Linked DNA regions of Homo sapiens: region 2 is linked to region 1. The links come from fine-mapping of genetic effects on gene expression. A gene starts in region 1. The other region holds a variant in brackets. All regions are shown on one strand. Distances are between the middles of the regions. Region 1 holds the start of SMPD3 (sphingomyelin phosphodiesterase 3). Region 2 overlaps SMPD3 (sphingomyelin phosphodiesterase 3).

Evidence for each region. PIP is the estimated chance that this variant, and not a neighbour inherited with it, causes the effect.
Region 2: its variant is the best candidate, but not a certain one, in a credible set for the expression of SMPD3 in whole blood (INTERVAL, PIP 0.88).

Annotation. Positions count from the first base shown.
Region 1 is chr16:68,447,184-68,450,081 of GRCh38, reverse strand. It overlaps SMPD3 (sphingomyelin phosphodiesterase 3), which reads left to right and starts at 1,574. Exons shown (of 9, transcript NM_018667.4): 1 at 1,574-1,729. It overlaps LOC124903705 (a long non-coding RNA gene), which reads right to left and starts at 1,242. Exons shown (of 2, transcript XR_007065097.1): 1 at 1,016-1,242; 2 at 1-917. RefSeq lists an enhancer at 1,207-1,256 and a silencer at 1,357-1,876.
Region 2 is chr16:68,361,719-68,364,616 of GRCh38, reverse strand. SMPD3 (sphingomyelin phosphodiesterase 3) reads left to right here. Exons shown (of 9, transcript NM_018667.4): 6 at 751-840; 7 at 1,058-1,121; 8 at 2,858-2,898. Among named protein-coding and RNA genes, the nearest start is that of PRMT7, 52 kb to the right of the region's middle. RefSeq lists enhancers at 425-1,236, 1,237-2,049. The variant CG/G (reference allele first, on the strand shown) is at 1,436.

The DNA.
Region 1 (2,898 bases):
GAGTTTTGGAGGTGTATGTGAATGAGGTTCCTTTATTTTCTTTTTTTTAATTTTATTCTTTTTCTCTTTTTTTTTTTTTTTTTTTGAGACAGGGTCTCACTCTGTTGTCCAGGCTGGAGTGTAGTGGTGCAATCTCGACTCACTGCAACCTCCACCTCCCGGGGTTCAAGCGATTCTCCCGCCTCAGCCTCCTGAATAGCTGGGATTACAGGCACGTGCCACCACGCCCAGCTAATTTTTGTATTTTTAGTAGAGACTGGGTTTCACCATTTTGGTCAGACTTGTCTCGAACTCCTGACCTAGTGATCCACCTGCCTCGGCCTCCCAAAGTTCTGGGATTACAGGCGTGAGCCACCACGCCCGGCCCAATTCATTTTCAATTCAACAAATATCTATATTTATATCTCAATAGCTAGTGAGTGCCTACTACGTGCCAGATACTAGACACTGGACTGTAAGTATGAATAATATAGACATGGCCCCTCCCCTGTGGATCTTATAATGAGGAAGACGAGCACATAAACATGCAAGTAGAACAGGGGAAGTAGAGGGTGCTGCTCAAACACAGGGTGGGGCACTCAACAGACAGCCCAGCATCTAGATGTCTTCACAAAACAGGCAATGTCTAGGCTGGGGCTTGCCGACGAGTTAGCTGAGGGCAGGGTGGAGAGGCCCAAGGGAGTAGGAGGCTTCCCAGCTTCCAAAGAAGTTAAGAGTGTTGCAAAAAAGTGGAGTCCAGATCTTGAAGGGGAGAGTGGGCTTAGGTCCGGGGGCATGTGAAGCGCCCTCCGTCTGCTGCGCTGGGGGAGATGCTGCGGTATCCTGGAGTGGTGTGAAGGAGGCCAGGACCTGCGATGGGAAGACGGAGACGGGAAGGCCCTGGTGGCCCAAGGGATGACCAAAAGTGAAGCGCTCCTCTATGACAAGATTGAGACAAAAATAAAGGAATAAAGTTCTGAATGCGGTGGGAGAGTCTCCTCCGTCCTCCCTCACCTTTGCTGGGCAGGAACCAAACCTGCTTGCCCTCGGTTTGCCCCATCACCGACGGGTGTGGTCGGGGGCACAGCTCTTCGCCCTTCTTCTCAGATAGGAAAACTGAGGCCCAGGGTCCTGAGGCAGAAATCAAGGTTTTCTCCTCGAAATGGCCTCCCAAGAGGCTGCCCGGGGTCTCACACGATCCTTCGAGGGTCCTGCGGCCTGCCCCACGCCTCCGCCAGCCATCCTCGGCTGGTCGTCTTTGCTATGGAAACGGTCCTCCCGCCCTGCTCCGCGCCTCCGTGTCTTCAGTGCACTCTGGGAAATGCAGTCCCGCTCTGTTTGCCTACCCGCGGCGTGAGCCCACTCCGCGTCCTTAAAGAACTATAAGTCCCAGAAGGCTGTGCGAAACTCCGCCGGTCTCTGGGGGATGTGGTCTTGAAGGAGAGACCCAGGAACCTGCGGGCGGGGCCGGAGGGAGAGGGGAGGACGCCCCCAATGGGCAGACTCCTGGGCGGGGTCCGGGTCACCATTGGCTCCGGCGGCGCGAGGGAGGCGGGGTCAGAGGAATGAAGCGCGGAGCTGTTCGCCGCTCCAGGTGCTGAGTCTGAGGGAGGCTCCGGACCCGAGAGCCGCGAGAGCCGCCGCCGCTGCGGCCGCCGCCAGATCTGCGGCCGGGAGCCCGGGCTGTGAGGAGCCGGGAGGAGCGGGGTGCGCTGCCGGGCGCTGACCGCCCTCCCGCCCGCCGTCAGAGGTCAGTGCTGCTGAATTCGCTTTTGTTTTCTTGGGGAGCGGGCGAACCGAGGCGTGAGGGGCTGGGGAGTTGACGGGACGTGTTCTCGTTGCTCTCAGGACCGCGGGTCCCGGACAGCCGCCGACTGACTAGGGGCCTCCCGTGGCCGGGCGCCGGAGGTCGGAGCAGCTTGGGTTAGTTTTCGTTTTATCATGGAGAAGGCTCTTGGGTATGAGGGGCGAGGGCTGGGGGTCACCCCCACCCCCCATCTCTCCTGGGAGAGCGAGGAGGCTTGGACCCTCCCTCCCGCTGTGCCTGGCGACGGGGCTGCTCGGATTACTCAGGACGGGAGGATGAGGTGTTGTGGGATGAAGGGACTCGAGGCAGGGGGACCCCTCCCCGCAACACTTCGGCTGCTCGAGGTTACAAAGGAGTCTGGTGGTGATGGATGAGATCGCGGACCGCTCCCCTAGCCCAGACCCTCCCAGGGGTATTCAGGAAGGGCTGCTTGGGATGCAGGGAAGACCCTTGCCCAGGCCCCTTCCTCCACACTCGCCCCCCTCCCTATTCCCCCCTCCTCCCTTGGCCCTAGGGTTTTGTAAAGAGGAGGATCGAGGATGTGGAAGAGACAGAGGACTCTTACCCCTCCCACTTGGACCCTCCTAGGTTACTGGTGAAGGGTGGAATTGGAATGTGGCAGGGAAACGCTGGGAGACCCCTCCCCATCCTTCTCGGAGTCGCGGGTGGAGGAAAGCACTGACACTCGGAATCCCCCGCGCTCGGGCCCGCGCCGAGGGTTGGGTGGCCTGGGTGTGAGAGGTAGTGTAGGGGGATGTACGAGGACAGGAGGGACCCCTCCCCACCTCTCCCCACCTGGGCCTTATCTCCCAGGCCCTCCCTACCTGGATCCAGGCCTGGGGCTCTAAGTCGAGACGACCCGCCCTAGCCCACCACGCCCCGGGGACCGAGCCTCTGGCACCGCAGCTGGGGGCCAATCCCAGATGGGCATGTACAGAGCGGGACGGGGCGGGTCTCCCCTCAAGCACTCAAGAGCTCCAGGTAGACGCTACCCCCAACCTCGTGCCCGCGAATCTTTGGGGGCTGCTCCGCTCCGATGCAGGGCGCACCCCAAACCGAGGCTCGGGGACCTGCTTCCAGGACGCGCGGTGGCTGTTCCAAGGCATGGGGCT
Region 2 (2,898 bases), 85 kb after region 1:
GACTGATTTCTCTGCCCCCTAGAAATCCTAGAACAGGAAGAGCCCACGCTCTGCCTAGAAAGCTGGAGACAGAGATGCCCTAAAAACGAACCTCTGACAAGGAAGGCTGGGGGCCTCTGAAGCAGACAAAGGACGAGTCCACTAGTAACACCCATCAACGGGGCGCCGCGCTCTTGCTTCGAGCCAGCTGCCATTCTATCGCTGTTTCACTTAAGTGTCTTAACAACCCTGAGAGGGAAGCATTGCATGTCTCCACGTGGTGTGGTGGAGGAAGCTGAGACTCAGAGAGGCTGGAGAACCAGCCCAAGGTCACATAGCCAGGCAGTGATTGCACTGGGATCTGAACCCTGGGAATTGCACCTTAAACCATTAGGGTGAAAGACTACAAGCTCGTCATCAGTGAAACAGCAAACACTTGCTGTAAATAACTGATCTGTGGATCCGATGACCACATGGACCTTGTGGGGACCTTCCTTCCTCTGTCCGAGGACCGTGGTCACTGTCACTGTCCTCAGAGGGAATGCTGAAGATCAGGGCGTGTGCTGGGGGAGGTGTTCTCAAGGACACAGAAAAGCAGCGACAAATGAAGCACGGGGCACCTGAATGGGACTGAGATCCCACCCAGGGGCAGTGGCCTAAGGGATGGGGGCCTGGCAGCACATGGGGAGTAACTGATGGGAAGCAGGGGCACAGGCCGTGTGGGACAGCAAAGCCCCCTGGTGCCTCAGCGTTTCCTCCCTCCCCGCACAGACGACAAGCTGGAGCAGCAACACTCCCTGTTCACCCACTACAGGGACCCCTGCCGCCTGGGGCCTGGTGAGGAGAAGCCGTGGGCCATCGGTGAGCTGGGGCTGGGGGAGGAGGATGGGAGCTGGGCTCCCCACAGACTTCCCTCAAAGATCACCAGGACCTACCCCACAAGACCCCACTGCTGGGGAAGGGCCCCATTCAGCTGCCCCTGGCTAGCAGAAGCCCGTGTCCACCCACAGAGGCCACCCCCTAGAGGCTGCCTGGGCCCTGCCTGCAGCGACCACTGTCACCCCCTCGTCCCCCCCAGGTACTCTGCTGGACACGAACGGCCTGTACGATGAGGATGTGTGCACCCCCGACAACCTGCAGAAGTAAGCACTGCGCTCCCAGGCCAGGGACGAGGCACACCCTGACTAAGGTGGAGACAGGGACTGGGCAGGACCCACATGGGAGAGCTCAGCTCGGGCTCATGAGGGCTTTTATTTGGCAGAAACCTGTCCCTCATCTCACCTTTGAGAGCTTTTGAGAGCTGGGAGCTGGGCCAGGCAGGTAGACCTCACGCCCTCACGCCCAGGGGTACTGGCCTTGCTAAATCTCTAGGGGTATTTCCCAAACCTGTTTTCAGGAGCTAGCCCTGCCCCGAGCCCCTGCCTGCTGGGTACAGGAAAGGGCCTGGAATTTCCCC[CG/G]GGCCAGGCCACAGGTCGACCCCCATGAAAGAGCTGCTGGGTACGGCGCCTGCTGAAGGCAGCCTGGCAGCTTGCAGCACCAATCAGGCAAATACAGACACCAGCTGCAATAACACAGCCGACCATTTTCAAAGTAGAGACAGTTCCATCCCAGCCAAAATTCATTCTTGAGCCCAGTAAGATGTCCATAAAGAACACATCTGAGAGGCCAACAGCAGAACCAATTTATAATTCACAGCCCGAGACTGCAGTCACAGCGATGGTTCCTTGCAGCTAATTTGAGCCAATTAATTAGATTATAGACTAAATTTGAAACATCATCCTATGCTGAGAAAATTCTTTTTATGAGATGATGATTTAAAAATGACTACCAGTAGCTCTCAGATCATTGATGCTGGAATTAATTATCAAGGGCAAAGGACAGTGATGGATTCCATTTCTGAGCTGTAACAATGTCCTGAATGTCATTAGTGTATTTATCTTAAGGCTGATGAAAACCTTGTGGAAGCCCATGTTTGCAGGCCCTGCCTCGCCGGGTGCCCCTTTTGCATCCGTCCAGGCACTCACAGACCTGGCGGCCTTTGCAGGGTCTCTCACCACTGCACTTGCCATCCCAGGCCCTGGCCCCAGCCTGCCCTCTGCAATGGGGGCTCCCAGGAGGGGGTCCTAAGCCTCTGGCCCAGTGGTGCTGAGGCCCCAGGGGACAGGCTGGCAGGAAGCAGACGGGCATACTGCTTGTCTCAGGGCAACAGTGCCAGAAAGGGATTCCAGATGTCACATCCCCCTGCTCCAGCGCCCTGCCCTCCCTGTGGATCCCCTAGCACCATCATGGGTTTCCTCACTCAGAAGCGGGATGACAGCCTGTTCCCTGAAGCGTCTTGGGGCCCACAGCAACCATTCTTGTTTCAGAGGAGGAAACAGAGGCTTGGAGGCTTGGTAACATAAGCAGAGTCACACAGCCACGTAGGGACAGCCCCATTTGAGACTCCTCAGAGGTGCTCTCCTGGCTCCCTCAGCTCCTGTCAACCTGGGAACAGTCACAAGGGTCCCCGAGACTCATGGCAAAGACCAAGCTCCTCAAAACAGGCCCCTGTTGGCTCAGGGCAGAAGCCCATTCTGGGGAACGGGTGGGATCAGTTCTGTCCGAGTTCAGAAAGGGAAAGTGAGTGCTGGCCAGGCTGGGGCGGACAGAACACTTCGACGGGCTCCGGAGCCCAGATTCAGCCAGGAACCCACAGGCAACTCGGCCTACCCCCAGCTGAGGCCCTTTTTGGACCCGCAGGGGAGAGATCTTAAACCCAGCGCTTTGGTCCCACCCACCCGCTCCCACACTGGGAGGAGACCATGGCTCCACACACAGCCCCTGCCAGGCCCACAGGGGCGGGCATGGGGGCCCACCTGCCTCCTGCATGTGTGGACAGGGTCCTGGAGAGTGAGGAGGGCCGCAGGGAGTACCTGGCGT